2 linked regions of the Homo sapiens genome follow. The protein of the gene in region 1 purifies or fractionates together with the protein of each later gene. This does not show direct contact. Each region holds a gene or a part of one and is shown in the gene's direction. Other genes may lie near its edges.

What was found.
Region 2: the proteins of LYZL6 (region 1) and COL6A1 purify together in Homo sapiens (co-immunoprecipitation; 2 studies listed by BioGRID and IntAct, with this or other methods). This does not show direct contact.

The regions. Positions count from the first base shown.
Region 1 is NC_000017.11:35,935,741-35,950,923, reverse strand, and holds the start of LYZL6 (lysozyme-like protein 6 precursor), read left to right. Parts: upstream 1-7,210; 5' UTR 7,211-7,357; intron 7,358-11,365; 5' UTR 11,366-11,567; coding exon 11,568-11,706; intron 11,707-13,007; coding exon 13,008-13,166; intron 13,167-14,090; coding exon 14,091-14,169; intron 14,170-15,183. UniProt on the Homo sapiens protein: May be involved sperm-egg plasma membrane adhesion and fusion during fertilization. Exhibits bacteriolytic activity in vitro against Micrococcus luteus and Staphylococcus aureus.
Region 2 is NC_000021.9:45,976,650-45,991,778, forward strand, and holds the start of COL6A1 (collagen alpha-1(VI) chain precursor), read left to right. Parts: upstream 1-5,120; 5' UTR 5,121-5,201; coding exon 5,202-5,298; intron 5,299-5,984; coding exon 5,985-6,114; intron 6,115-7,619; coding exon 7,620-7,820; intron 7,821-9,876; coding exon 9,877-10,036; intron 10,037-10,294; coding exon 10,295-10,423; intron 10,424-10,505; coding exon 10,506-10,526; intron 10,527-10,849; coding exon 10,850-10,870; intron 10,871-10,960; coding exon 10,961-11,005; intron 11,006-12,434; coding exon 12,435-12,488; intron 12,489-12,958; coding exon 12,959-13,003; intron 13,004-13,102; coding exon 13,103-13,129; intron 13,130-13,608; coding exon 13,609-13,635; intron 13,636-13,728; coding exon 13,729-13,773; intron 13,774-14,123; coding exon 14,124-14,177; intron 14,178-14,329; coding exon 14,330-14,392; intron 14,393-15,129. UniProt on the Homo sapiens protein: Collagen VI acts as a cell-binding protein.

The DNA.
Region 1 (15,183 bases):
AAAAGAGAAAGAGGAAAGAGGAATCCATGGATTAAAAGATTTAAAAGACATCGACTAATCATAATGTGTGCATCTTATTTCAATCCTGATTTAATCAACTTTAGAAAAGGCTTTTTGACATAAAACAGTTGAAAATTTGAACACTGACTGAATATATAATGATATTAAAGAACAATTGTTTTAAGAAAGATAGAGATAATGTGTGACCAGCGCTTGATAAAGAAGAACCCAACCCAAAATCTATTATTAGAGAAGGCTGCGGAGTATGAGAGAAACAGACTGTGCTGGGAATCCTAACCCTGGCGTGGCCATCAGTGCGCTGTGGCCTTGGCTGAATCCCTTTCCCTGCCCAGACCTTGGTTTTCCCATCTATGAAGTGAAGGAGGGGACCCAAGGGGCCTGTTTAACTCTGGCTTTCTTTTGCTTTGTCCTCCTGTCATGGGCGGCCATGGAGCCTTTAACTCAGGGCCTGTATCAACACCACCATGCATCCACGAGAGAGTAAAATGGGCAGAAGAGTGCTTGATGGGCACAAGCCCAGAGCTGTTGGCTTCTGCAGAACCCAGAACAGGAAGGGTCACCTCCCTGAGGCACCTGGCCTGGAGAATCAACTGCCTGATCCCAGGTATGCCAGGTCAAAGCCAAGGGGAAGGAGAGAAACTGCTGGAGGACTTTCTCTCACAAACCGTGGGCATGTGTTATCTGCCTACCAGGATGCTTTCACCGTGTTCTGATGCTTGAGAACTTCTGGTGAGTTCCCTGGGCCTCCATCCTGGTCTGGTTACCTTCTCAGGACTCCAGGTGAGTTGGGCTGCATGTGACAGACCCATGTGTGTGCAAATGAACAATGTCACTGGATTGCTACATCACTGACCCTTCAATTCCTTGTTGCTGGCCTCTGCCCACCTGCCTTTCAGATACCGTCATTATGAAAGTATCATCCTTAACACAGAACCTCACACACTATAAGTGCTCCATGTAAAGCAGTGAAGGGGTGGAGAGGGGAACCTCCCTCTAGGACCATCATAGATGCTTAACATTCTCTTGAAGCCTGACAAGCTTTCTCCAGAAGGCTGAACTATAATACTCACCATCTGCTACCAACACCAACCAGTTTAACACATGAACTAAATAACCAAGAAAGAAAAACACTTCCCTTTAAGTGGGTACTGCAGAGCAGTAGCTAGATCCATACGTTAGTGTCAAATCTGGATTCAAATCCTGCACTGCCTCCTATCAGCTCTGTGACTTTGGGCGTTTCTTAACTTCTCTGCAGCTTATTCAGTAAGAATGCTGTGAAGATGAGATTATTTCCTTCATACAGTGTTTGGCATTGTGCCTCACCCACTGGGAGGGCTCAATGTGTGTCCACAACTGCTTTTCTTTTTCTTTTCTTTTTTTTTTTTTTTTGAGACTGTGTTACTCTCACACCCAGGCTGTAGTGCAATCATAGCTCACTGCAGCCTCAAACTCCCAGGCTCAAGGGATCCTCTTCCCTCAACCTCAGGAGTAGCTGCGACTACAGGCCACCACACCTGGCTAATTTTTGTAATTTTTTGTAGAGATGGGGCCTCGCCATGTTGCGCAGGCTGGTCTTGAATTCCTGGGCTCAAGTGATCCACCCACCTTGGCCTCCCAAAGTGTTGGGATTACAGATGTGAGCTGCGCCTGGACCTTTAGGCATTTTTTAACCTCTCTGTGGTTTATTTTGTTTTGTTTTGTTTTTGAGACGAGTCTCGCTCTGTCTCCCAGGCTGGAGTGCAGTGGCGTGATCTTGGCTCACTGCAAGCTCCGTCTCCTGGGTTCACGCCATTCTCCTGCCTCAGCCTCAGGAGTAGCTGGGACTACAGGCGCCCGCTACCACGCCCGGCTAATTTTTTGTATTTTTAGTAGAGACGGGGTTTCACCGTGTTAGCCAGGATGGTCTCGATCTCCTGACCTCATGATCCACTCGCCTCGGCCTCCCAAAGTGCTGGGACTACAGGCGTGAGCCACTGCACCCCGCCACCTCTCTGCAGTTTATTTAGTAAGAGTGCTGTGAAGATGAGATGACTGCCTGCATAGAGTGTTCCGCATCATGCCTCACACACTGGGATGGCTCAATGTATGCTCACAATTTGCTTTTTTTTCTTTTTCTTTCTTTCTTTTTTTTTTTTTCTTTGAGATGGAGTTTCTATCTGTCACCCAGGCTGGAGTGCAGTGGCATGATCTGGGCCCACTGCAACCTCTGCCTCCCAGGTTTAAGTGATTCTCCTGCCTCAGCCTCCCGAGTAGCTGGGATTACAGGCACACACCACCACACCCAGCTAATTTTTGTATTTTCAGTAGGGACGGGGTTTTGCCATGTTGGTCAGGCTGGTCTCGAACTCCTGAGCTCAAGTGATCCACCCGCCTCAGCCTCCCAAAGTGCTGGATTACAGGACTGAGCCACAGCGCCCAGACCACTATTGCTTTTTGGGGGGAAGCTTCTATTGCAGCACCGTAAGGGGGCTCCACCATCATATTTTCCTACCCCTCAATTGAACCTTCTCTCTTTTCCCTATTTCTTATAAAAATTACCTTTCAGTGTGTCGTTTTCTCAGGGACATGCTAACCTGTGATGTTGCAGCGTCTGATGATGCAACTTTGACGGGCTTTATAATCGTGGATTTCAGGCAAGCTGGGAGGCCTTCCAAAGGCCCTTGAGAACCACAACTTTTTTTTTTTTTTTTTTTGAAACCAAGTCTCACTCTTGTTGCCCAGGCTGGAGTGCAGCGGTGCAATCTCAGCTCACTGCAACCTTCACCTCCTGGGCTCAAGCAAATCTCCTGCCTCAGCCTCCTGAGTAGCTGGGACTACAGGCGTGTGCCACCAGGCCCAGCTAATTTTTTGTATTCTTAGGAGAGATGGGTTTTGCCATGTTGGCCAGGCTGATCTCGAACTCCTGACCTCATGTGATCCACCGGCCTGGGTCTCCCCAAGTGTTGGGATTACAGGCGTGAGCCACTGTGCCCAGCCTGAGAACCACAACTCTTTGGTGACATCTGCAATCCTCCATATCAGCCCTGCAGATAACAGACAGGGAACTATGGCTGCTGTCTCACTGGAGTCAGGATATCCTTTTAAAAAGAAATGGGAGTGCCAGGCGCCATGGCTCACGCCTGTAATCCCAGCACTTCGGGAGGCCGAGGTGGGTGGATCACCTGAGGTCGGGAGTTCGAGACCAGCCTGACCTACATGGAGAAACCCCGTCTCTACTAAAAACACAAAATTAACCAGGCGTGGTGGTGCATGCCTGTAATCCCAGCTACTCAGGAGGCTGAGGCAGGAGAATCGCTTGAACCCGGGGGCGAAAGTTGCGGTGAGCCGAGATCGCGCCAATGCACTCCAGCCTAGGGAACAAGAGCGAAACTCCATCTCAAAAAAAAAAAAAAAAAAAAATCTGGGAGCACAGAGAGCTCTCCTGGTGTTGGGGGACCAACAAGGTGGAATCAAGAGCCACAGACCAGGGCCCAAGTCCCAGCGGTAACTGAGTATTATGGGGGTATTAACGCCCACCGCCCACCGCCCAGGATAGGGAGCACAGAGCAGAGAATTCTAAGCATTCAAGCCCTGAAACGCCCACTTCCTCTACCTGAGTCGCTGCTGTCCTCTAGTGTCCACTGGATAAATTGCACAGCACGCTGGCCTGAAGAAGGGGAAGTGGGAGATGCTTTTCCCCCACTTCTGAATCTATCTGATGCTGTGGTTCTCAACCATGCCCACCCATAACTTCCTTTTCATAAAATATATTTTGTATAATTACAGTAATTTTTAAACATTTTAGGCAGATGTATTGAGGTATTGACATATAATAAACTGTGCATATATAGAGATTACAATTTGGTAACATCTGACCCTTGGTATACACCTGAAATCATTATCACAATCAAGATAGTGAAGATATCCGTTCCCACAAAAAGTTTCCTTGTTGCCCTTGGTGATCCTGCTTCCTGCTCTTTCTACCTCCCCACCCCCAAGCAACTACTGATCTGCTCTCTTTTTTTCTTTTCTTTCGTTTTTATTTTATTTATTTATTTTTTTAAGATGGAGTCTTGCTCTGTCTCCCAGGCTGGAGTGCAGTGGCATGATCTTGGCTCACTGCAACCTCCACCTCCTGGGTTCGAGTGATTTTTGTGCCTCAGCCTCCCGAGTAGCTGGGATTACAGGTGCGTGCCAACAGGCCTGGCTAATTTTTATATTTTTAGTAGAGACAGGGTTTCACTTTGTTGACCAGGCTGGTCTCGAACTCCTCACCTCAAGTGATTCGCCCACCTCAGCCTCCTAAAGTGCTGGGATTACAGGTGTGAGCCACTGTACCCTGCCCTGATCTGCTTTCTATCATCATAGGTTAGTTTATATTTTCTAGTGCTTTCTAGAAATGGAATCATACAGTGTGTACTCTTTTTTGTCAAGCTTCTTTCACTCAGTATAATTATTTTGAGTTTTATCCATGTTGTTTTGTGTGGCAATAGTTCATTACTTTTTAAAATTTTAGTTGTAGTTTTTGTGGGTACATAGTAAGTGTATATATTTATGGGGCACCTGAGATGTTTTGATACAGGCATACAATACATAATAAAGACATCATGGAGAATGGGGTATCCATCCCCTCAAGCATTTACCCTTTGTGTTAAATATTTCATGGCAAAGTTATCTTGGGGTAAACACTGCAGCTGCAGGTGCCACCAGTGAGTATTCTCTGGGCAAACAGAAAAAGGGTTAAACAAATCACATTACACATTACTCTAAAATTTGTATCTATGTCTAGCCCTCAGACAAACCATGATGCCTGTTCTTTACATTGGTGGTCACTGAATGCTAGAATTATGAATTTAAAATTAATAAAAATTAATCAAGTTTTCAAAAATCAAAATAAAATGGATTTATTTCAATCATTTTGACGTAAAAATTTGACTAATTCTAATTTGTATGTTGCCTTTTGGTTTAATGGATACTTTTCAATAGTTGAAAAGAAAACTAACTTTTGGGAAAATATTCCTGATAAAATTAAATTTTTTACATAAACATAATTTTGATGAAAATATTAAGATATTTGTACTTTGAATATGATTGTTTTAATCCTTACATGTATTTTCAAATCTTGATAATAATAACATAATTACCGATTTTGCTGAAAGATAAGAAAAATACATTTCATGGAATAGTTTCAGTAATTTATAAATTCCACATCTTTATTACTCATCCCAATATTGTCAGCCCATCAACAGAGCACCCAGACATGCGCAATAAACATGAAATTTCATGATCTTTGACATTTTGCTAACTTTCTGTCATATACAAATCATAGCTTCATATATATTTTAAAATTTTATCCTTTTAAAGGCATATTTGTCAGAGGATGAGGATAGGACATACTTTAACATACATAACATAACATAATCGGCCGGGCGTGGTGGCTCACGCCTGTAATCCTAGCACTTTGGGAGGCCGAGGCAGGCAGATTGCCTGAGCTCAGGAGCTCAAGACCAGCCTGGGCAACAAGGTGAAACCCTGTCGCTACTAAAATACAAAAAAAAATTAGCCAGGCATGGTGGCATGCACCTGTAGTCCCAGCTACTCGGGAGGCTGAGGCAGAATTGCTTGAACCCAGGAGGCAGAGGTTGCAGTGAGCCGAGATCACTCCAGAGTGAGACTCCATCTCTAAAAAAAAAAAAATACAAATCATAGCTTCATACACATTTTAAAATTTTATCCTTTTAAAGGAATATTTGTCAGAGTATGAGGGTAGGACATACTTTAACAGTCTGTTAGTTTAATTTATAACTTGCAAATATTGAGACAGATGGCCTATGGTATCCATCTGTCCTCTTGCCCTGAGCTGACTTGACTCATGGGTCCCAGCTTGGGTTTTCCAGTTGTTTGAATGGGTAGGAATCTACCCATGTTTGCCACAGCTAGGGGGCTGGAGGTGGAGGGTCCCTCTGGACCCCCTTTGAATGACCATAACTTCAGAGCCTATCAAAGAGACTAAATATTCTGCAGCCCAGCAGGAGGTCCCAACCCAGCCTCCAGAGGGAGTGGAAACTTCTGCAAACCAACAGGATTAAACTGAGGCTCATGTGACTTCCTTGGGAGACCATCCTCTCTCAGATCTTAAGTTTCAGAGATCAAATTTCCAAGCATGTGGTCCTTGGCTATGGAAACCTTTCCTCCTGCCCAGGACTCTCACTCTACAGAGACGAGTTCATTCAGGTCATCTGAAGCCCATGTAGATTTTTGGCCACAAATGGTTTCTCATAAAGTGGTGCCCCCAGCATGTTCAGCCTCCCCTCTGCCCCTGCAGGCCTTCTATCCCAGGGTGCCATGCACTGCTGCCCTGCTGGGAAGAGAAGTCTGGAGGGGCACGGGGCAGCACTGCCCACTCAGAAGCCCCTTGTCCTATTTTTCTGTCAGATCCTGCCTCCCTGTTTCAGAGGGAAGAGTGGGCCGTCAGTAACAAGATGTTTTCTCCCTTGCCTCTTTTTTGCTACAGTTGGTAGAAATTTCTCCCAGACTTCCTCGGTGACTAATGATGTTGGGATGTTGTGGCCTTCACAGGGAGGGGACAGGGTGTCAGGTCACCATATCACAGATGGTTGACCCCATGCCGACTACAACTGGCTCTTTTGGCTGCAAGTGACAGAAACCCAACTCAAACTTGTTCTGTGAGTGGGGACATTTATTGAATCTCAGAATTGAAGGGAGGGGAAGGGTGTGTTTGGGTCCCAGAAAGGGTGGACCCTGGGGCTGGAATCCCGTCCAGACTCCGCTCCCTCTTCACGGAGGCTTAGCACCTTAGATGGGCTATGTCCTCTGGCCCTGCACACATGGGCTTCCTGTTGGAAGCTGAGCAGCTCCACCAGCTTCCGTTTACAAATATAGTGACTGGCACACAAGCATTCCTATGCTTATGGGGGGTGGTGGGGGGCAGGACCCCAGGACTGGCAGCCCCCACTAAAACCCCATGAGGGAAGGAGTCCCCCCAAAGGTGGTGCTGTTCCCAAAAATGAAGGAAACAGCCAGTGCTCTCCACCCTATCCCACCCGGCCATTTTCCTCACAGATGTCACCTGTCCTCCCAGGCCCAGCTGCTACTTCTGCCTGATGCTTGGCCAATTTGCCTGGTTAAAACCAGTGTATTTCCAGGAGATGGATGACGTCACAGAACTGGGGTTCCAGAAGCCTTCTTTAGAACATGGAGAGCTGTTAGTTGGGCAGGGCTGAAGTGTATGTGGTGAGGAAGAAGAGGCTCCTACTGTAGACAGCCTTGTTCTACAGATCCTCCCAGAAATCTCTGGGCCAGGTGGAACCCAGGGTCAGAGAGGGATGGGAGAGAGGTAAGCTGTGGAAGGGGTGGGAACATACCTTCTGGAGCCACTGTCTTCCTTGAGGGGACCCTGAGAGGGGGCTTAATGGGCAGGGATGGAGCTTCCTGCTTCCCGAGGCTCAGTGACATCTATCTCTGAGGGACCCTCCTGAGTCAGTGTGGAGTAGGTTGTTTGTCTGAAATTCTAATTTAACAGGGCATCTTGTAAATTTTATTTGCCAAATCTGTCAGCTCTGGGGGTAGAATGATGGGAGAAGCAAAAGAATGGCCCGAAGCTCAGGCTGGTGTGGAACGAGTCTCAGATAGAACAAGAGACAGAAGCAGCCTCATTGTCTGAAGTAAATACCAAGGTTCGTGGTCTCACGTTTAAGGAGATCGAGGTCGCAGACACACACGCACACAGAGTGAGTTTGGAGCAGGAGTTTAATAGGCAAAAGGAAAGAACAGCTCTCTGTCACAGACAGAGGTCCCAGGCAGGTTGCCAGGTGGTAGTAAAAACGTCAGGGTTTTATAAATGGGCTAGAGAGGGGCATTCATGAGGAGGGGATGTCTTATCCTCCTAGAGCCCGATGGTTCAGTTGGGACCAGGTGTGCTATCTGTATAGAGCAGAGTTTTTAATAGGCTCTCACCCCATTCCCGACCACATCAACTTTTAGTCTGTGTCTCTTTGTCTTGCTTATCTGGGAGCGAGAGTTTCTGTGTCTATTCCCACACATCTTGCAGCTGTAGGCATACCCATCGATTCTGCTTTTAGCTTCCCTATCTTAGCGCGCCTAAAGAGAAAGGAATGTAGTTATTAAGGCCCACTGTTTTACTGGGGCCCATTGTATAAGTGTGAAGTTTGGTGATTACCCAGGAGACTTCCCCCATCCTTCTGTGCCTGAGCTCTTATCTGTTTTTACCCTTTGCTCTTTCAGGCTGGTTGTTGTTAGAAGAAAAGTGATTTCCTTGAACTGCGTGAGGTTAGAAAGGGAGCTATCTTTGAGCTGCTTTGCGTTAAAAGGAAAGTTTTCTGCTGGGGATTCACTTTACCCTAACTGTCTACCTAAGTAGTTTCTTTCTGCCTCCTATAACAAGACCAGAGAAGAAACAAGCCCACCAGGGTAGCCATCTTGTCCAAGCAGAAGCCGCCTGACACTTGAAGGCGGCGGGTGGAAGAACTCAGGCTTCTGCCCCCTCAGCAGCATATACCTAAGTTAAGGGGAAAAACACACCTTCCCTCAGTGACAGAAATAGTCCCAGGTTTTCAGATTTATTGGAAGTATTATTTCTTTTTAGTGTAGAGATGAGGTCTTGCTGTTTCCCAGGTTGGTCTCAAACTCCTGGCCTAAGCAATTCTCTCACCTCAGCCTCCCAAAGTGCTCGGATTACAGGCATGAGCCACCATGCCTGGCCAGTCTTTCAGTTTTCATGGCATTGGCCATTTTGAAGAATACAGGCCAGTTATCTTACAGATTTTCAGTGAGTTTGGCTTTGATGTTTCCTCAGGATTAGACATAGCCTATGCATCCCTGGACGGAATATTGCATAAGCGATGTGTCCTCCTTGGGAATCACATCTGGAGGCACACAATGTCCCTCTGTCCGTCTTTGGAGATGTTAATTTTGATTGCAAGGTCAAAATACTGTCTGGTTATCCACTGTATACTGTTTTGTTTTTTCTTTCTGTGCAACTAATAAGCAATCTGTGGGGAGACCCTATAAGATCATGATATATCCAGTTCTTCAGCATTCTTCCCACCACCTCAGATTTAGCATGCAATGATGATTTGTTCTCAAACCAATCTATGATAGTTGCAAAATGGTGATTATTTTTCAACTCCATGACTTCCTCCACACTTATCGGTTGGCCTTTTATTGTCAGGAAGAGGTCTCTGCTTCAGCTCCACACAATGTATCTTTTTGTCAATTTATTATTATTATGGGCTCATGGATTCCTATTGCATTTAATGTATAATCTGTTACTGTCATTTATTCTGATGGTCTAATTGTCCCAGATTGGGTTGGAAACCATTATGCAATGGTTTCTTAGATATGACACCAAAAGCACACCCAACAAAAGGACAAATAGATAACTTGCACATCATCAAAATTAAAAACTTTGGGGCTTCAAAGAACACCACCAAGAAAGTGAAAGGCAACCCACAGAATGGGAAAAAAATATCTGCCATATATCTGATGCTGGTCTAGTATACAGAATATATAAAGAACTCTTCCCACTCAGTAATAAAAAGACAACTCAATTTGAAACTGGCCAAAGGTTCTGAATAGACATTTTCCCAAAGATATACAGTGGCCAATAAGCACATAAAAAGATGATCAACATCCGTAGCCATCTGGGAAACGCAAATTAAAACAACAGGGTGATACCAGTTCATACCCACTAGGATACCTTTTGTCAAGAAGACAGATAATAACAAGTGTTGGTGAGGATGTAGAGAAATTGGAACCTTCATACACTGCTGATGGGAATGCAAAATGGTGCAGCCACTTTGGAAATCTGGTAGGCCTCATAAGCTTAAGCCTAGGGTTACCCCATGACCCAGCAACTCTACTCCAAAGAAATAAAAACATATATCCACACAAAAACTAGTATGTTAATGTTCATAGTAGGATTATTCATGATAGCCAAAAATAGAAACAACCCAAATGTCCATCAACTAATGAATGGATAGACGAAGTATGGTGTATTCATACAATGAAATATTATTCAACCATAGAAAGGAATGAAGTATCATTACATGCTCCAACCTGAATGAAACTTCAAAACATTATGCTAAGTGAAAGAAGCCAGATACAAAATGCCATATTTTCTGTAACTCCGTGTGTATGAAATGTCCAGAAGAGGCAAATCCATAGAGACAGAAAGTAGATTAGTGGTTGCCAGGGGTTGGGAGGTGGGGGATGGGCAGTGACTGCTAAATGGGTGCAGGGTTTTGTTTTGGATTGATGAAAATATTCTAAAATCAAGTGAGGTAGTAGTTGTACAACTCTGCAAACATACTGAAAACCACTGAATTGTACACTTTAACTGAATTAATTGTATGATACATGAATTATATCTCAATAATGCTGTTACCAAAAAACATCGTTTCAGATCTGGCCAGTCGGTGCCCCTTTGAGCTAGCTCTTGTGTCCATTTGACATGCCCCAATACATATTTCGAGCACTTTTTAAATTTCTTGTACAGCAAGATAATCCAGACATCTCATAACCCTTTCCTGCTCCAGCCTGGGAATCAGCCATATTTCCTAGAGTCCTGGTTCCCTTTTGTGTGGAATGTGAACCAAGATCTGGGCATTATTTCATTTAATCATCAAAACAACCCTTTTAGGTAGGTATTAGCATATCTTCATTTTACAAATGAGGCCCAGAAAGGTTGAGTATGTTGCCCAAAGTCACATAGCACCCCAGGATTTGAAAGCAGGCAGTGTGAATCTAGGGCCCTTGCTATTCAACACACACACACGCGCACACACACATACACAATGTGAAAGTGAAGGTTACGTCTACAGCCAGCCCACCAAGAATTGTACCAGGCAGGGTATGCCCTTGGGAAAAATCATGTGTCATGTGTCTGGGGGAGTGGGGTTGTGGGGAGATTAGCACCCAGTGTCCTGGCCCTCTTTCTAAAAGCACATGCTCAGATACACACACACATATGCTGGTGAAGATAGTCTTCAGTAATCTCCTTTGCCAACCTCACTCCCCATCCCAATACCCAAATACTACCCATAGCTGGGTGCCCATATAAGAGGACCTATGGATGAAATGAGATTGGCCAGGTGTGGTGGCTCACACCTGTAATCCCAGCACTTTGGGAGGCTGAGATGGGAGGATCACTTGAGGCCAGGAGTTCAAGACCAGCCTGGTCAACAGAGTGAGACCCCCATCTCTAAAAAATAAAAAAATAAAAAACAAACAACAACAAAGAAAGATTGGCCTTGGTTTTTGAATGTTGAAGCTCAGAAGTGGGTATATGGAGGTTCATGATACTATTCTCTTTCCTTTTTTAAAGGTTTAATTTTCCATGATAAATAAAAATCTATAAAATAATAAACAAGAGAAAAGAGATTGGAAACAGCCAGGTTGGAGCAGTGAGTGAGTAAGGAAACCTGGCTGCCCTCTCCAGATTCCCCAGGCTCTCAGAGAAGATCAGCAGAAAGTCTGCAAGACCCTAAGAACCATCAGCCCTCAGCTGCACCTCCTCCCCTCCAAGGATGACAAAGGCGCTACTCATCTATTTGGTCAGCAGCTTTCTTGCCCTAAATCAGGCCAGCCTCATCAGTCGCTGTGACTTGGCCCAGGTGCTGCAGCTGGAGGACTTGGATGGGTTTGAGGGTTACTCCCTGAGTGACTGTGAGTACCATCCGCCCCTCCCCAGCCATTTCTCCTCTGCTAGTCATGTCCTATATGGCCAGCTTCTTTCTCTCCTGTTCATCTTTCAAAGCCAAGTTCAAAAAGCAGCCCCCTTCAAAAAAGCCTTTCCCAACACGCTGTATTCACTCAAGTTATTGTCTGAGCACTTATTATGTACCAACAACTGTTTTAGGCACTGGGGCTGTAGAGATAAACAAATTCCCTTCCCTTATAATGTTCACATCCTAGGGGAAGAGAGCAGCAACAAACACACTCATAACGTACTGCCTGGTGGTGACCAATGCTATGAAGAAGAATAAAGCAGGGGGAGCAATGGTGAATTCTTTAGATGGGGAAGTCAGGGAAGGCCTCTCTGAGGAGATGACATTAAGCAGCACTGAATTAAATGAAGGACCTGGTCACCCAAATGTCTGGGGGAAGAACACTCTAGGCAGAGGGGACAGCTAGTACAAAGGCTTTCTCCTCCTGCATGGAAGGGATATCTCCCTTTTGCCCAGGAGTTGTGTGCACCTGTCTTGCAACACTTTTGTCCTTTAATCTTGCTTTGTGGGTTTTTTAGGTACCTTTTTTTTTTTTTTTTAGACAGAGTCTCGCTCTGTCACCCAGGCTGGAGTGTAGTGGCGCGATCTTGGCTCACTGCAAGCTCTGCCTCCTGGGTTCACACCATTCTCCTGCCTCAGCCTCCCCAGTAGCTGGAACTACAGGCACCCACCACCATGCCCAGCTAATTTTTGTATTTTTAGTAGAGACAGGGTTTCACCGTGTTAGCCAGGATGGTCTCGATCTCCTGACCTCGTGATCCGCCCGCCTCAGCCTCCCAAAGTGCTGGGATTACAGGCATAAGCCACCGCGCCCGGCATACATATTTTTAAGCTTGTACATATTTTTAAGCTTGTACATACAAGCTTATTACAAGGCCTGTATTACAAGCTTAGGTACATATTTTTAAGCTTGTAATACAGGCCCCTTGAAGGCAGCATCTGTGTTTGACCCAACTGAAATGTCCCTCACTAGGCTTTGCACAGTTCCTGGCACACAGTAGGTGCTCAGTAAGTGCAAAACACATGAATAGATGGACAGATGAGTAATTGTACTTATGAGTGGGTGGATGGACCACAGGATAAGAGGGCAAGTCAATGGAGATTTCAAGCCCTCTAGTCCTATCTTGCCTCCCAGGCCTTGTTCCTTTTGTCTGAAACCTTGCCTCCCTTTCTCCTCCATCTCCCTTCTCACTCAGCTTGGTCCCCTCTAAATCCTGACCTTCTTCTCCCTACTCTAAGGGCTGTGCCTGGCTTTTGTGGAAAGCAAGTTCAACATATCAAAGATAAATGAAAATGCAGACGGAAGCTTTGACTATGGCCTCTTCCAGATCAACAGCCACTACTGGTGCAACGATTATAAGAGTTACTCGGAAAACCTTTGCCACGTAGACTGTCAAGGTCTGGCCAGGGCCCCAGGGTGGGAGAGATGAGAGCAGCAACCAGGCTCTGCTCACAGAACTTCTCTTCCCACCCACAGCCTGGGAATGGCCCCAGAAATATGGTTCAAAAAATCAGGGAATCCCTTTACTGAGCAGAGGGCTGGAGTAGTGTCCCTAATGCCCATCCAGTTAGGAGATTCTATAGAGTCCCTGAGTAGGATCCAGGAAGGCTCCGTATACAGCTGGTAGTAGTAGAACAGTTGCAGCAGCCAATGTTTATTGAGAGAATATTATACACTAAGTGCTTTACATACTTGGCTTATTTCATCCAACTTTCATGCAGTAGAAACCATTTATGATCCCTACTTTACAAAACAGCAAACTGAGGCTCAAAAAGAGAACCAGCATTGAATGCCAGACTAATGGCCTCACAGGCTCTTAACCATTCCGGAGTACCCTCTTTAGCTAATGATCTGACCAAAGACCAAGTGCAAACTCCCTACCTCAGAGCTGATCCAGGAGGCTCGACAGGGCCCATGACTCTGCCCCTCACCTCTGCCTTCGCACACTGACCGATGTCCCTCGGCTCCTCGCCTGAAGACCCCCGCTCACTAGGCGGGACATACCTCTGTGGTGTTTTGGCATTTCCTCTCCCTGGAAACCTCCCACAAACTTTGAGTGAACCACTATCTACCCTGGTTAGGAAGAATAGTAGTGAACAGGCCCAAATCTCAGGCCTCTTGCCCCTTCTGCCCACACCCCCTTTCACCTCGAACCTCTAGCAGCCATTGTAGGGATGTCTAAATGGGCCCCCTGGGAGACAGCCTTTGCCTCAACTGGAAGCCTCTAGGTGGCATAGGGCTGTCCAGGGAGGGCTGGTGTCTGCCTCCATCTTTGGGGCTGTCTTCTGTGCCCTCACAGGTTTTCTCTTCCTCCCTTTCAGATCTGCTGAATCCCAACCTTCTTGCAGGCATCCACTGCGCAAAAAGGATTGTGTCCGGAGCACGGGGGATGAACAACTGGTGAGGAGGACACGGTGGGACTCAGCGGGCAGAGCCCCACGAAGGAGGACGTGACAGAGAAAAGGGCAGTAGGCAAGGACTCACGGGCACGCCCTTGCAGTGTCTAGAAAGATGTGGGATAGCGGACGGGCTTGGAACTCTGAGATCTGGTTCTTCTATGATATTGTATTAAACAAAACTCTTCTGGTTGCAGTAACAGAAAACAACTTGAGCTAGCTGGGGGAAATTTATTCTGAGAGGCCCAGATGTCTCACTGAGCCCACTCAAGGGCTGCAGCTGGGCCTCAGGAAGAGCATGGAACCAGGGCTGGAAATTGTCAGCACACTGTCCATGGCAGGTTTCAGCTTCTCTTGGTGCATTTGCTTCACTTCTCTCTCCGCAGACTTTCTCTGCTCCACAGTCTAAAGGACAAAGGGTGCTGCAAAGTTAATAAGCTAAAGTCCTAAGCAACCATAGGGACTGGCTAGGCTCAGTCCCAGTCCAAGTTCCTGGGATAGAGAATCTGATTGGTTCCACTTGGACCATGTGTGCCCCCTTGGTCCAATCAACTGTAGGGATGGGAGGAGTTAAGCAATACAATTATGGCTGCCGCTCGGGCCCTGTGGCCATAATTGACAATATTTTTTTATTTAAAAATGTGGACCGGGCATGGTGGCTCACGCCTGTAATCCCAGCACCTTGGGAGGCTGAGGCAGGTGGATCACTTGAGGTCAGGAGTTCGAGACCAGCCTGGTCAACATGGTGAAGCCCCGTCTCTGTTAAAAATACAAAAAATTAGCTGGTCATGGTGGCGCCTGCCTGTAGTCCCAGCTACTCAGGAGGCTGAGGCAGAAGAATCGCTTGAACCTGGGAGGTGGAGGCTGCAGTGAGCCGAGATCGCGCCACTGCACTCCAGCCTGGGCGGCAGAATGAGACTCTGTTTAAAAAAAAAAAAAAATGTGGCGGCTGGGCGCAGTGGCTCACTCCTGTAATCCCAGCCCTTTGGGAGGCTGAGGTGGGTGGGTCACAAAGTCA
Region 2 (15,129 bases), on another chromosome or scaffold:
TCTTCTGCCGTGGCTTCAGCCGGTCCCTCCATTTGGGGTCCCTGACTTCCCACAACAGGGGAGGGGGTACGGTTGGTCCAAAAGGGGAAGGACAGAAGCGGGGCCTGGGCCAGCAGCCCTGGGGCTCCCACCAGCCACCAGCAGCACTGAGTCTCCTCTGCAACTTTCCCTGTGGACAAAGGCAGTTTCCTGGGATGGTCTTTCCTTCCCGTTCCACCACTTTTATGGGTTTAAGAAAACCACTAACACAGGACAGCGGTGGATAATTCCCCTTTTCCCCGCGCTGACGTTTGGAGGCACCAGGGCTCCTCAAGGTGGACTGGGGGGCTCCTCTCCCTGAACGCAGGGTCCTGATGGGGGTGGGGGTGGGGGTGGGGGTGGAGGGCAGGCAGGTTCCAGAAACAGCCCTGCCCTCCCCTGCCTCCCGGGACAGCTTCCTCCACCAAGCCCACCTCATGCTCCATCCTCATCCCCTCTTAGCCAGGTCCTGCTGGAAGAGGAGGCTCGGGTCCACCCGCAGGAGTCAGAGAGGCCCTGCCAGGGACACTGCACATTCAAGGCCCTCTCCTCCATCCTTCTTCCTCTCCCTCCTCCCACCCTCTCCCTCCTCCCACCCCCTCTCCCCTCCTCCCATTCTCTCCCTCCTCCCACTCTCTCCCTTCTCCCACCCTCTCCCTTCCCACACCTGGAGACTCAGATCCCCCCAGGGCTGTGGACGACTGGCACAGTGGGGTAAGTCCTGCTCCCCACAGCTGCTTCTGGGATCCCAGACTGGGCCCAGAGTCCCCATCCACAGAAGGGCCGGCAGGCCTGAGAAAGGACAGCCAGGTCGCCAGGGAGGGGATGTGGCTCGCCCCCTTCTTCCCTTTCTCTGGAAGTGCATTTACCTCCCCCCACACACAGGCGGGGTTGCAGGGCCCTTCCCAGCCAGACCCTGCAGTGCAGCTCTCTGGGAGGCCCCCCAGGGCAGTGGTTTCCTGGCTCTGTGCTTCCTAGGATCCTGGAAGCCGACTGGGCTGGGGTTGGGGGGTGGAGCCCCATGGGAGAAGGATCTCCTGCAGGAATGGCCTGGATGGGGGCTTGGGGGTGGACATGTGCCAGAGACACCTGGGTAACTTCAGGAGAGAGGAGGGAGGGGGAGAGAGGAGGGAGGGGGAGAGAGGAGGGAGGGGGAGAGAGGAGGGAGGGGGAGAGAGGAGGGAGGGGGAGAGGGGGGGAGAGAGGAGGGAGGAGGAGAATAGGGGATGGGAGAGAGGAGGGAGACGGTGAAGGGGAGAGTAGGGAGCCGGAGAGGAGAATGAGGACAGGGGAGAAGAGGGAGGGGGAGATGAGGAAAGGGGGAGGGGAGCAAGTGTGAGAGGAGGGAGGGGGAAAGGAGGGAAGGGGGAGAGGAGGGGACAGGAGAGAGGAAGAAGGGGGAGAGGAGTGAGTGTGAGAGGAGGGAGGGGGAGAGAGGGGAAAAGGGGGAGAGGAGGGAGGGGGAGAGGAGGGAAGGGGGAGAGGAGTGAGCATGAGAGGAGGGAGGGGGAGAGAAGTGAGCGTGAGAGGAGGGAGGGGGAGAGGGGACAGGAGAGAGGAGGGAGGGAGACAGGAGTGAGCGTGAGAGGAGGGAGGGGGAGAGGAGTGAGCATGAGAGGAGGGAGGCGGAGAGGAGGGGACAGGAGAGAGGAGGGAGGGGGACAGGAGTGAGCGTGAGAGGAAGGAGGGGGAGAGGAGGGAAGAGGGAGAGGAGTGAGCATGAGAGGAGGGAGAGGGAGAGGACTGAGCGTGAGAGGAGGGAGGGGGAGAGAAGAGAAAAGAGGGAGCAAAGGGGACAGGAGAGAGGAGGGGGGGAGCGGAGGGAGCTCACCCGCTGTGGGTGGGGCAGGTTGTGGAAATCAGCCCCATGACAACAGTAAGCTCAGCCAGGACTGGGATTCAGGATGTTTTATTTTCATGCTTTATGTGGTTTTCATGTTCTCCCTGAGACATAAGCATCACTTACAATCAGAAAAGATCCCTGATGAAAGTGCATGAAGGAACACAAAGCAGGCGACTGCACGTCTATGAACACGCTCACGGTACGGTGCACAGAGCAGGCGACAGCACGTCTATAAACACACTTATAGCACGGTGGCCACGGTGGCTCACGCCTGTCATCCCAGCACTTTGGGAGGCCGAGGAGGGCGGATCACCTGAGGTCAGGAGTTTGAGACCAGCCTGGCTAACATGGCGAAACCCTACCTCTACTAAAAATACAAAAATTAGCTGGGCATGGTGGCATGTGCCTGTAGTTCCAGCTACTTGGGAGGCTGAGGCAGGAGAATCACTTGAACCCGGGAGGCGGAGGTTGCAGTGAGCCGAGATTGTGCCACTGCACTCCAGCCTGGGCGACAGAGCAAGACTCCATCTAAAAAAAAGAAAAACGCTTAAGCAGAAACACACTGAAGTATTAGCTCTGAATCCCACTCGGTAGTGAAACTAGATGTTGCTTTATGATTTTAAAAAATTCGCTATGATGAACATGTATCTTCTTCATAAGAGAAAGAGTCAAGTTTACTCTGAGTCATCATTGCAGATTTCCTGTGAAGCAGAGGCACCTCTGGGCCCCACCCAGGCCTGGGACCGCCCTGAGCCTGAGCCCCTCACACAGTGCGGCCCCAGCCCTGCCTCGGAGAAGCCCAGGCCAGGATGAAGCCTGGGACCGGGGGAGGAGTCGGACCGCGGCCCTGGAGCTCAGGATGCTGCAGCCTGGGGTGTCGGCGTTATTCCCACGCATCTCCACAGCTCCCGCCGCACCCACCCCGCGGACCTGCTGGCGGAGCCGGTGGTATACTGTGAACTGACTTATGAAACCACCTCTGCAAGGCAAAACAGGCCATTGGCCACTGGGCCCCGTGAACCTGTCCCTGGGCGTCCGCATCTCTTCCATCTTACAGACCGTGTGTCAGCCACCTGCTGCTGTGTGCCTGTGGTGGGACCCTCACTGCAGGGAATGCTGCATTCTTGGTGTTTGCTTACACAACGTGTTCCTATTTCCTTTCCCAAATCTGCAAGCACTCCTTGCAGATAAAACAGCTCAGACTGGGAGAGGCCAAGAGAACACGGAGGTCCTGAAGCCCCCTGTGCTTGAGTCAGGAGCCCAGAGGCTGGTGCCACAGCTCCAAGCAGGCAGCACCAAACCTCAGCACCCACAGCCACAGTGTGGATGACATCAGTGGCAGGTAAATTGACTGTACAGTAAGTGTACAAGGCCAGGCACGGTGGCTCATGCCTGTAATCCCAGCACTTTCGGAGGCCGAGGCAGGAGGACCACTTGAGTCCAGGAGTTCGAGACCAGCCTGGGCAACATCGTGAGACCCCCATCTCTACAAAACATACAAAATTAGCTGGGTATGGTGGCACATGCCTGTGATCCCAGCTACTCGGGAGGCTGAGGTGGAGGGATCACCTGAACCCAGGAGACTGAGGCTGCAGTGAGCTGTGATGAGGCCACTACGTTCCAGCCTGGATGACAGAGTGAGCCCCTTAGATAATAATAATAATAATAAGGAGGAGGAGGAGGAGGAGGAGGAGGAAAAGAAGGAGAAGTACTTTACAACTTCTGTAACGTAGGTGTGGGGAAAATATTGAAGGCAATCCAAAAACAGTCACTGTGGAGTTGTGGAATTAAGTATCAATTTTAAAGGTTTTTTCAAATGTTTCTTTAACATGGTTTTTGGTATGAACAATTTGTGTACGTTTTAAAATTATAAGACATTTAGGCTGGTGTTAGGCAAGTCTCAGCAGCTCCAGCTTTGGGAAAGCTCTTCTGGGACCTTCTGTGGGCCAGGGATGCATCTGGCCACATCTGGAGCCCACCCCCAGGTGATATCAGGGACAGCCCCTCTCTCCTCTCTCTGTCTCTCTTTCTGTCTCTCTGTCTCTGTCTCTCTGTCTCTGTCTCTCCGTCTCTGTCTGTCTCTCCTCTCTGTCTCTCTCTGTCTCTGTCTCTCTGTCTCTGTCTTTGTCTCTCTCTGTCTCTCCTCTCTCTGTGTCTCTGTCTCTGTCTCTCTCTCTGTCTCTCTCTGTCTGTCTCTCTGTCTCTCTCTGTCTCTGTCTCTCTCTGTCTGTCTCTGTCTCTCCTCTGTCTCTCTGTGTCTGTCTCTCTGTCTCTGTCTTTCTGTCTCTCTCTCACTGTCTCTGTCTCTCTCTGTCTCTCTGTCTCTGTGTCTCTCTGTCTCTGTCTCTCACTGTCTCTCTCTCTGTCTCTGTCTCTCTGTCTCTCTGTCTCTCTGTGTCTCTCTGTCTCTGTCTCTCTGTCTCTGTCTCTCCTCTGTCTCTCTGTGTCTCTCTCTGTCTTTCTGTCTCTCTGTCTCTCTCTGTCTCTGTCTCTCTCTCTGTCTCTGTCTCTCCTCTGTCTGTGTCTCTGTCTGTCTCTCTGTCTCTGTCTCTCTGTCTCTCTCTCACTGTCTCTCTCTGTCTCTCTGTCTCTGTCTCTCTGTCTCCACACACAGCATATATAACAACTATATTGTGAGCAACTTTGTCTTCCCACGGTACAAACTGAAATATCTTTGGCAAATACGTATCCGACTATACTGTGAAGAAATATTGACGTGAAAAAAGAACGCGGAGATCTGATAAAGCAACAATTCAGCTCACGGCGAGGTCCTCTGCAGGAGGCGGTTGGTGGGAAGAGGCGAGTGAGCCTGCCCGTGCGTCCCGCATGGAGACGTCTGGATTGGAAACTACCGAAAGATGTTTCAAGGAACTCTCCCTGGGTGACACGCTGGTTTTCAGACGTTTGATTCAGCTGCTGCAGTTTCCTCCTCCCTGACACGGGAACTGAACTGCAGGCCGCGGCGAGCCAGCCAGGGAAACCGCCTTCTCCCTGGGCTCGGAGCTGCTGCCGGTTCTGGAGGGAGAGACCCCAGCAAGGAGGTGGTGACTCATGGGCCGCTCCTCCCCGCCCCGCCCCGCCCCTCCCCTCCCGCCCCGCCCCTCCCCTCCCGCCCCTCCCCTCTCCTCCCGCCCCTCCCCTCCCCTCCCCTCTCCTCCCGCCCCGCCCCTCCCCTCCCCTCCCGCCCCTCCCCTCCCCTCCCGCCCCTCTCGCCCCGCCCCTCCCCTCCTTGCCCTCCGCTCTCACTCTGGCTGGGAGCAGAAGGCAGCCTCGGTCTCTGGGCGGCGGCGGCGGCCCACTCTGCCCTGGCCGCGCTGTGTGGTGACCGCAGGCCCCAGACATGAGGGCGGCCCGTGCTCTGCTGCCCCTGCTGCTGCAGGCCTGCTGGACAGCCGCGCAGGATGAGCCGGAGACCCCGAGGGCCGTGGCCTTCCAGGGTGAGTGGTGGCTTGGGGTGCAGGCTCCAGACCCCCCGCTCTTTGCTGCCGGCCAGGGCCAGATGCGCGGGGTCCCCTCCCACGCGTGGAACTGCAGACTGGGGGCCTGGAGCCCCTGAACCCCACTCCCCGCTCGGGGCGGCTGCAGCGCCCAGCTCTGCCCCACCGGGCCTTGGCCGGGGCCCCTAGAGGCTCAGCATTCAGCATTCTCAGCGGGGCCGGACCGCAGGCAGCTCGGGAGGGGCTCCCTGGCGAGGGGGAGCTGGTGCGGGGCTGTCTCGGCGCCCCGTGAATCCGTTTGACCCCTCACCTGGCAGTGAGTCCAGACGCACGGCCCCCCCGACCCCCGTTCTAGAAGAAGTCGTGCGCTGCTGGTTCTGAATCCAGCGAGAAACCTTCCCGTGAGGTCTCACTTGTCCGGTCCCGTGCCGGGGACGCCCTGCCCTTCGGGGGAGGTTGTGAAGGTTTCTGACTCCCCTCGAGGCACAGGAGCGGTTTGGGGTCTCTCACTCCACCCCCTCCCCACCGTCCCCACCGAGGGACGTCCTGCTGCCTTTTCCCGGGAGAGCCTCTCCGGGCCCGGGGCTCTGTGCTGCAGGCGCTGGGCTGGCCGGGAGGGCAGGCCCAGCAGAGACTCGGGGAATGGGGCGAGAGCTTGAAGGCCCCTCTCCTCCATCTTCGGCCAGACTGCCCCGTGGACCTGTTCTTTGTGCTGGACACCTCTGAGAGCGTGGCCCTGAGGCTGAAGCCCTACGGGGCCCTCGTGGACAAAGTCAAGTCCTTCACCAAGCGCTTCATCGACAACCTGAGGGACAGGTAGGAGGGACGCCCCGTGACCTTCCTCCTGTGCTTCTGGGCCTCTTGGAGGGAGGGGTGGGGGCCCAGGGGAACACGGGTGCGACGGCCTCAACCTCCTAAGGTTGGGCGAGCGTTGCCCTGACCGGGGCCCCTCCCGGCGCCCTCCAGAGTGAGGCCGGGGCCCTTTCCGGCGCCCTCCAGAGTGAGCTGGTCTGAGCCTCTCCCAGCGCCTTCCAGAGTGAGCTGGTTTGAGACCCTGCTCGCGGGGGTGGCACCTGTTCAGCAGGGCCGAGGTGACAGTGAGGCTGAGATGTAGGGAAGAGAGGCTCCCGCAGGCTGACCGAGAGGGCTCAGCGCACTGGCCCAGACACGCAGTCCTGCCTGGTGCGCGGGAGCCCCTCACTAACCACCTGGACCCTGGTTTGTTCCGTGGGCAGTGAGAGCCTCTACCTGGGTCCTGGATCCCACGTTCTGAAGGTCCCCGACTCGGGAGCCAGGAGGGGTGTCGCTCTGCAGCCCCAGGGCCCCCAGGCTTGGTTCTGGGCTTGGGACACGGCACCCTCTGCTCCACGTTCCTCCATCTGTGCGTGTGGCTGAGGACAGACCGGGGGGAGAGGGGAGTCGGTCCTGTGGGTGCACAGGGCCGCTGAGGGGGGGGCATGTAGAACGGGGCTCCCCCACTGAGACGGGTCCTGGCAGTGGGGACACAGCTTAGCCGGCGTAGGAACCCCCGTCCTCCTTGACCCTGCTGACTGGCCGCTGGGCCGGAGCCTCCCGCCACCAGAAGGGGCACAGTCAGAGGCTGCCGGTAACAGCAGGGTGGACCTTCCAGCCCACACCGTGCCCAGCAGGAGCCATTGGTACCAGGAACCCTGAGCTTAGTGGACATGGCCAGGCCCGTGCGGCAGTGTTTGGGGGGGGGTCTGGCTGTGGATGGCACCGGGGAGGGGCGGCCGCGTGGCCCAGCGTCCCCCGAGTCGCCCTTGTTGCCTTTACTCAGTCTCCCCATGACTCAGTTTCCCACCTGTGAAATGGGGCGGAGTCATCCCCATGTCGCTGCCACTGGATTCCTGCAGGCGCCGTGGTCACTCTGCTGAATGGATGGGAGGGTGGGTGGGGCAGAGGTGGGCCCACCCCAGGCTGGGGCAGAGCAGACCCCTGAGAGCCTCAGGCTCAGGTGCTCAGAGGGCAGCGAGGGGGCTGCTCAGATCCCCGGGGTGCCTCCTTCCCCCACTGTCATGCTGCCCCACTGCAGGCCCAAGGACCCCACCCCAGCAGGGCCACACACTCAGGGCTCCTGGTCTGAGGGCCTGAGGGATCGGGGCGCAGGTCGCTTGCTGGCCACACCCGCCTGCACAGCCTTCCAGGAGGGCCGGCCTCAGGGCCACAGGGCAAGTCCAGCTGTGTGTCAGCCACGGCCAGGGTGGGGCAGCCTGTCCATCTGGGTGACGTCGCGCCCTGGGACGGGTAGCGATGGCGCCAGGGGCCGCCCGCCTCACGCCCGCCGTGCCTGTTCCTGGCAGGTACTACCGCTGTGACCGAAACCTGGTGTGGAACGCAGGCGCGCTGCACTACAGTGACGAGGTGGAGATCATCCAAGGCCTCACGCGCATGCCTGGCGGCCGCGACGCACTCAAAAGCAGCGTGGACGCGGTCAAGTACTTTGGGAAGGGCACCTACACCGACTGCGCTATCAAGAAGGGGCTGGAGCAGCTCCTCGTGGGGTGAGTGGCCCCCAGCCTCCTGCCCACGCCAGTTCTCACGCGTGGTACCCAGCCTGGGCTGGGGTTGGCCTGGGGTCCCTGTGCGGCTTCAGCTGCAGCCTCCCTGTTCTCTTGGAGGCTGCACGGCCTCCCTGACCCACTTTGTGGGCAGGAAAGAGACGGAGACAGACAGAGACAGAGAGAAACAGAAACAGGGAGAAACAGACACAGAGAGAGACAGAGACAGAGAGAGATAGAGACAGAGACAGAGAGAGACAGAGACAAAGAGTGACAGAGGGACCAAGACAGGCAGACAGAGACAAACAGAGACAGAGACAGAGACACAGAGAGAGACACAGAGAGACAGAGACGGGAACAGAGACAGGCAGACAGAGACAGAGAGAGACAGAGACAGAAACAGAGACAGAGGGACAGAGACAGGCAGAGAGAGACAGAGAGACAGAGACAGAGACAGACAAACAGAGACAGAGAGACAGAAACAGGGACAGAGACAGAAAGAGAGAGAGACAGAGGGAAACAGAGAGAGACAGAGACAGATAGAAAAAGACAGAGGCAGAGAGAAGCAGAGACAGAGAAACAAAGACAGTCAGAGACAGACAGAGACAGAGACAGAAACAGAGACAGAGAGACAGAGACAGAGGGGCAGAGACAGGCAGACAGAGAGACAGAGACAGAGACAGCGAAACAGAGACAGAAACATACAGAGACAGAGAGACAGAGAGAAGCAGAGACAGACAGAGGCAGAGAGACAGAGAGAAGCAGAGACAGGGACAGAGACAGAGACAGAAATAGAGAGATAGAGACAGAGGGACAGAGACAGAGAGATAGAGACAGAGAGGGAGACAGAGAGATAGAAGCAGAGAGAGAGAGACAAAGACAGAGGCAGAGAGACAGAGAGAGAAGCACAGACAGAGACAGACAGAGAGACAGGGACAGACAGAGACAGAGAGACCGGAAACAGAGGCAGAGAGACTGAGAGACTGAGAGAGACGGGGTGGTTTTCCCCACAGCATCAACACCAAGCAGGGCTAGGATCACTGAAACAGACTCATCAGACCCGAAGCATGCGCTTTCTCGGGGTTTTTCTGGACTGAGGGGTTTCCTCTCATCCCAGTGTCCAGCTGTGGGGACGCAGGGGCCGCAAGCCCCGGAGTGTCCAGAGGGGAACGTGGCCTCCCCACACCCAGCCCTTCACGAGGCCTCAGGATCCCAGTGGGGGTACCCGAGGCTGCCCTGTCCAGCCAGGCGGTGCGGGGGGTTTGGGGAGAGCCTCTCCCCGAGGTCGGTCTCAGAGGGCCACATGGCCGGTGTGGGCCGGACATTCCCTTTCCAATGGTTGTGCCCACTTCCCTCCAGAGTTGGTGCCAAGCTGGGACCTGGGGGACTTGGAGTCTCAGGAAGTCGTCCGCTGTCTGCAGGGGGTGCATGGGGGATGTGGCCACACACGTCAGAGTGCGGCCCCCTGTGGAAGCCACAGACAGACACGACTCCCCTAAATGAGCTCGCCCTTCTGGCCGAGATGCTCAGCGTCCCCAGCAGGCTGCCCGACTGCCCTGCGATACTGCCCTCCTTCCTGCTGCTCCCACTTTCCCTTTCGGGGGGTTGGATTTGGGGCATTCAGGGATCGCCCTGTTGTTTGCTCATCACACCCATTTCCTGCAAGAGCCACGGTGACCGAGCAGCCTTGAGTTGAGGCAGCTTGTGGGTAGACGCGGCGGGCATCTCGGAGGGGCACGCTCCCTGCCACCCTCAGCCTCCACTCACTGGTCAGGGGCTTTGCGCCCCAGGGCACCCCAGGAACCGAGCCTCCTTTGGGGTCATGGGTGCCTCTCCTGGGAGGGCGTGGATTTTCCAAAGCAGTTTAGAGAAATGAGACCCACAGGCGTTATTTCCCATGGTGAGGTTCTTTTCAGTAACCCCCACCGTATAGCCAGGATCAGCAAAGAGAGGCGGCTCCTCCCGGTGAGACAGGGACCAGCACCTCCCGGACAGGCTTGGGTCTCCCTCCAGTTCCCCCACCTAGTCTCGAGGTCTCACGCTGCCCTCTCCTGTCCAGGGGCTCCCACCTGAAGGAGAATAAGTACCTGATTGTGGTGACCGACGGGCACCCCCTGGAGGGCTACAAGGAACCCTGTGGGGGGCTGGAGGATGCTGTGAACGAGGCCAAGCACCTGGGCGTCAAAGTCTTCTCGGTGGCCATCACACCCGACCACCTGGTAGGCACCGGCCCCCCCCGGCAGATGCCCCCAACCACAGGGAGTGGCGGCTGCAAGGCCCCCGGCAGCTGGGACCGTCTTTTGGTCCTCGGGAGGGTGTGGGTTCTCCAGCCGGCCACCCTTGCCCCTGAGAGGCCAGCCCCTCCTGCTGAGGAGCCTGGAGCGCCCCAGCCCAGCCTCCCCTCTGGCCCTGTGGGAAGCGGCCCCGGCCGTCAGGGGTCCCAGCCCTGCTCAGCCCACCCTGAACACTGCCCCCAGGAGCCGCGTCTGAGCATCATCGCCACGGACCACACGTACCGGCGCAACTTCACGGCGGCTGACTGGGGCCAGAGCCGCGACGCAGAGGAGGCCATCAGCCAGACCATCGACACCATCGTGGACATGATCGTGAGGCCCCTGCCCAGGAGACGGGGAGGCCCGCGGCGGCCGCAGGTGGAAAGTAATTCTGCGTTTCCATTTCTCTTTCCAGAAAAATAACGTGGAGCAAGTGGTAAGAGCCCTCCCCACCACCCCCAGCCGTGAGTCTGCACACGTCCACCCACACGTCCACCTGTGTGTTCAGGACGCATGTCCCTATGCATATCCGCCCATGTGCCCGGGACACATGTCCCCTGCGTGTCTGCCCGTGTGCCCGGGATGTGTGTCCCCCTGCGTGTCCACCTGTGTGTCTGCCCATGTGCCTGGGACATGTGTCCGCCTGTGCGTCCATCCGTGTGTCCGTCTGCCCATGTGCCTGGGTCGCATGTCACCCTGTGTCCCAGCCGTATGTCCGTGGCTTTCCCACTGACTCGTCTCCATGCTTTCCCCCCACAGTGCTGCTCCTTCGAATGCCAGGTGAGTGTGCCCCCCGACCCCTGACCCCGCGCCCTGCACCCTGGGAACCTGAGTCTGGGGTCCTGGCTGACCGTCCCCTCTGCCTTGCAGCCTGCAAGAGGACCTCCGGGGCTCCGGGGCGACCCCGGCTTTGAGGTGAGTGGTGACTCCTGCTCCTCCCATGTGTTGTGGGGCCTGGGAGTGGGGGTGGCAGGACCAAAGCCTCCTGGGCACCCAAGTCCACCATGAGGATCCAGAGGGGACGGCGGGGGTCCAGATGGAGGGGACGGCGGGGGTCCAGATGGAGGGGACGGCGGGAGTCCAGATGGAGGGGATGGCGGGGTCCAGATGGAGGGGACGGCGGGGTCCAGATGGAGGGGACGGCGGGGTCCAGATGGAGGGGATGGCGGGGTCCAGATGGAGGGGACGGCGGGGTCCAGATGGAGGGGACGGCGGGGTCCAGATGGAGGGGACGTCGGGGCTCCAGATGGAGGGGACGGCGGGAGTCCAGATGGAGGGGACGGCGGGGTCCAGATGGAGGGGACGGCGGGGTCCAGATGGAGGGGACGGCGGGGTCCAGATGGAGGGGACGTCGGGGCTCCAGATGGAGGGGACGGCGGGAGTCCAGATGGAGGGGACGGCGTGGTCCAGATGGAGGGGACGGCGGGGTCCAGATGGAGGGGACGTCGGGGCTCCAGATGGAGGGGACGGCGGGGGTCCAGATGGAGGGGACGGCGGGGTCCAGATGGAGGGGACGGCGGGGTCCAGATGGAGGGGACGGCGGGGTCCAGATGGAGGGGACGGCGGGGTCCAGATGGAGGGGACGGCGGGGTCCAGATGGAGGGGACGGCGGGAGTCCAGATGGAGGGGACGGCGTGGTCCAGATGGAGGGGACGGCGGGGTCCAGATGGAGGGGACGTCGGGGCTCCAGATGGAGGGGACGGCGGGGTCCAGATGGAGGGGATGTCGGGGTCCAGATGGAAGGGACGGCGGGGTCCAGCAGGCAGGCTCCGGCCGTGCAGGGTGTGGACTGTCCCGGGGGCGCTGGGGGCTTCTGAGGGTGTCTCTGTCCGCCCTGCCCTCAGCCGCACTCTGTTCAGAAGGACCTTTCTGGAGGTAGGAGGGTGAGAATGTGGGTCCCCTGCTTCTGTGTGGCTCACATAGGATGACCTTAAACGTTAGAATTAGCTGCTGATAATTAAAACTTGCCATGAGGCTGCTCATGGACCTCAGATTTCTGGCTTCTCCTAAAAACCATCAAACCCAGCAGCTGTGGGCCCGAGTCCCATGGCCATTTCCTGGGGGTCGAGCTGTGACCCTGGGGGGCTTCTGTGCTGCACGTCCCTCCCACCTGTGCCTGGGGGTCAGCAAAGCCGAGCAGACAGGAACGAAGGCAGGGAGTGGGGGGAGCTGGCGTGCGGGTTGGAGCTCCCAGACCCAGGCTGACCAGATGTGATGGGGAAGGTGCTTTAAAGCCCTTGATCCCTGAAGGCTGGATGAAGCGTCTTTTTAAAAACCTGTTTCGTGAGCCAGCTTTTTAGAAAGAAACGGGGCTGCCCCAACCTTGACCTGTTTTGTGTTCCAGGGAGAACGAGGCAAGCCGGGGCTCCCAGGAGAGAAGGGAGAAGCCGGAGATCCTGTGAGTGCCTGACTGTGGGGTGGGGGCCCTAAGAAGCTGGAGGCGGGGAACGACTAGGCCTCGGAAACTTCCGGAAGAGTGGCTGGGTTCTGAGTGCCAAAGTCACACTGCCTGTTCCTTGTGGGTGGGAGCAGACCTGGAGGGGCCACAGCCCAGCCATCCTTCCACACAGCCCCCCAGGCAGCCCGTAAGCCCCCCTGCCAGGGAGGGGCTGGGTGGGGAGGTGGCCCAGGGTGCTCAGGCCGGCACCGTCCGGGGCCCCTGCCGTGGCTCCTTGGCCCAAATCCTATCCATAGACTTCCCTCCCCCAGCTCCACCTTGGAGGGCCTCGGCACCATGGGCCCCGTGCAGCAGGGCCCCTCTCTCGGCCTGACCAGGCCTGGGCTGGAGGGAGGGGTGTGGGGCTGGGTGGGACTGGCCCCTGCCCCTGCTCCTCCGGGGGTGTCTCACCATCTCCTCCTGTGTTCCAGGGAAGACCCGGGGACCTCGGACCTGTTGGGTACCAGGGAATGAAGGTACGTGCCCCCCCTTTCCTGGCCCGAGCCCGGTGGTGCCCTCAGCCTTGCACAGCACTAACAAGCCTTCCTCTTCCTCTTCTTCCGCTGGGTGTGTAGGGAGAAAAAGGGAGCCGTGGGGAGAAGGTGAGTGAGGCTCGACCTCGGAGCTGGTCTCTCCAGGCGCAGATGTGCCATCCTGGACGAGGGTGTCCCCGGGGATGAGGACAGTGTCCCTGACAGGAGACCACGTGTCCTGCAGACCCGCTCCACCGCCCCTCGCCGTCCCCTCCATCTGGAAGGACAAGGACAGCCACCCAGGCACCCAGCAAAGGCGCCTGTGTCACTTTCACCCCACCCCAGAGCAGGGGTCCCCCGGGCGGTTACCCTCTGCGGAGCCGGGGGTCCCCCGGGCGGTTACCCTCTGCGGAGCCGGGGGTCCCCCGGGCGGTTACCCTCTGCAGAGCGGCCCCTCCCCATCACTGTCAGTCCCCATGATTCTCAGCAGTGATGTTGTCCCCTCGGGTTGGGGGCACCCAAGCCCCTGCCTCGCGTGGGCCTAAGCCAGGCTTGCCCTGCCCTCCCCACCCCAAATACCCCCTCACACCCGCTTCCTGTCTCCGCAGGGCTCCAGGGGACCCAAGGGCTACAAGGTGAGCGTGGGCTGCTGGGAGGGGGGAGTTCTGCCCCCACGGCAGCATGTCTGACCTGCATCTGACTCCTGCCTTCGTTTTCCCGCCTCACAGGGAGAGAAGGGCAAGCGTGGCATCGACGGGGTGGACGGCGTGAAGGTGACTGGGGGGAGATAGGATGGACGGGGAGGGACGAGGAGGAATGGGGCGAGATGGGGAGGGACGGAGTGGACGGCGTGAAGGTGACCCGGGGAGGGATGGGGTGGACAGTGTGAAGGTGACCAGGGGAAGGACGGGGAGGGACGGGGAGGGATGGGGTGAGGTGATCCCGGCAGGAGGGACAGGGAGGAGTGGGGTGGACGGTGTGAAGGTGACCCCAGGGGGGTGTCTGCTAGGCAGGGCTTTCCAGGGAGGGTGTGGAGGGCATGGAGGGCACCAAGTCTGACAGTTGATTGGCCTCAGTTTACCCACTTGGCCGTCAGATTTTCTAGTTTTCTTCCTCTTTCCAGGGGGAGATGGGGTACCCAGGCCTGCCAGGCTGCAAGGGCTCGCCCGGGTTTGACGTAAGTCACTTCCTCTCACTGATACTTTAAAACTAGCGCTGTCAGCAGCACCTCGTGTGGACCGTTTTGACTTCTGTCTGGGCGGTCTGGGGCTGCTGCCAGAGGCCGCGGTGGCCTCTGCCGGTGGTGTCATGCTGCCCTCTTTTCTCCAGGGCATTCAAGGACCCCCTGGCCCCAAGGGAGACCCCGGTGCCTTTGGACTGAAAGGAGAAAAGGTGAGTGACTTGCGGCCCCTGGAGGACCAGGGCCTTCACGGTTGGCCAAGCGCTGAATTGGAAACCTCTCCTGGAAGCAAGTCCTGGTCCGAGCATGTCGGCCACCCGTGCGGCCTCAGAGGGGAGGAGCTGGTGGAGGCTGGAGGCAGGCAGAGGAGCAGCGGGGACAGTGCCCACCGTGGGGACAGTGGCCGTGGCGCTCCCGCCCAGAGCCTTCCCTGCAGCCCGAGGGCCTTCAGGCCTCCGCCATTCTGTCCCCCGCACCTGCCGCTCGCTCGGCACAGATGGGACCCCACCGCGTCACTCCTAGCCTGCGAGCCGCAGCCCAGAATGGCTCTCAGAACTGAGAATGGGCTGGGTGGCACTGAGGGTGGCGAGTGGGCGGGAGGGTGGTGAGCGGGGGCGGGAGGAGGGTGGTGAGCGGGTGGGAGGGCGAGTGGGCAGCGGGAGGGCGGGAGCACGAGGCGGGAGAAGGAGCTTTTTCGTCTGACAGCTGAGTCTGCCGTTGCTGGTGTTTTCTCTGGAGTTTCTTTGTTGAAGCTGAAGTGTTGGGGAAGACAAAGGCGAATGCTGACCCCACCCCAAACATTCCCAGACGAGCTCCTAGAACCCAGCAGACGGTTTCCAAATCTCATCTTCAAGTTCCCAGATTACCCTCCAGGCCCTAGATTTGAGTTTGCCAATTTGCCAGCCTGGCAAAGCTGTGCCTTCTCTAATGGGAACCAAATCCTGCCCCT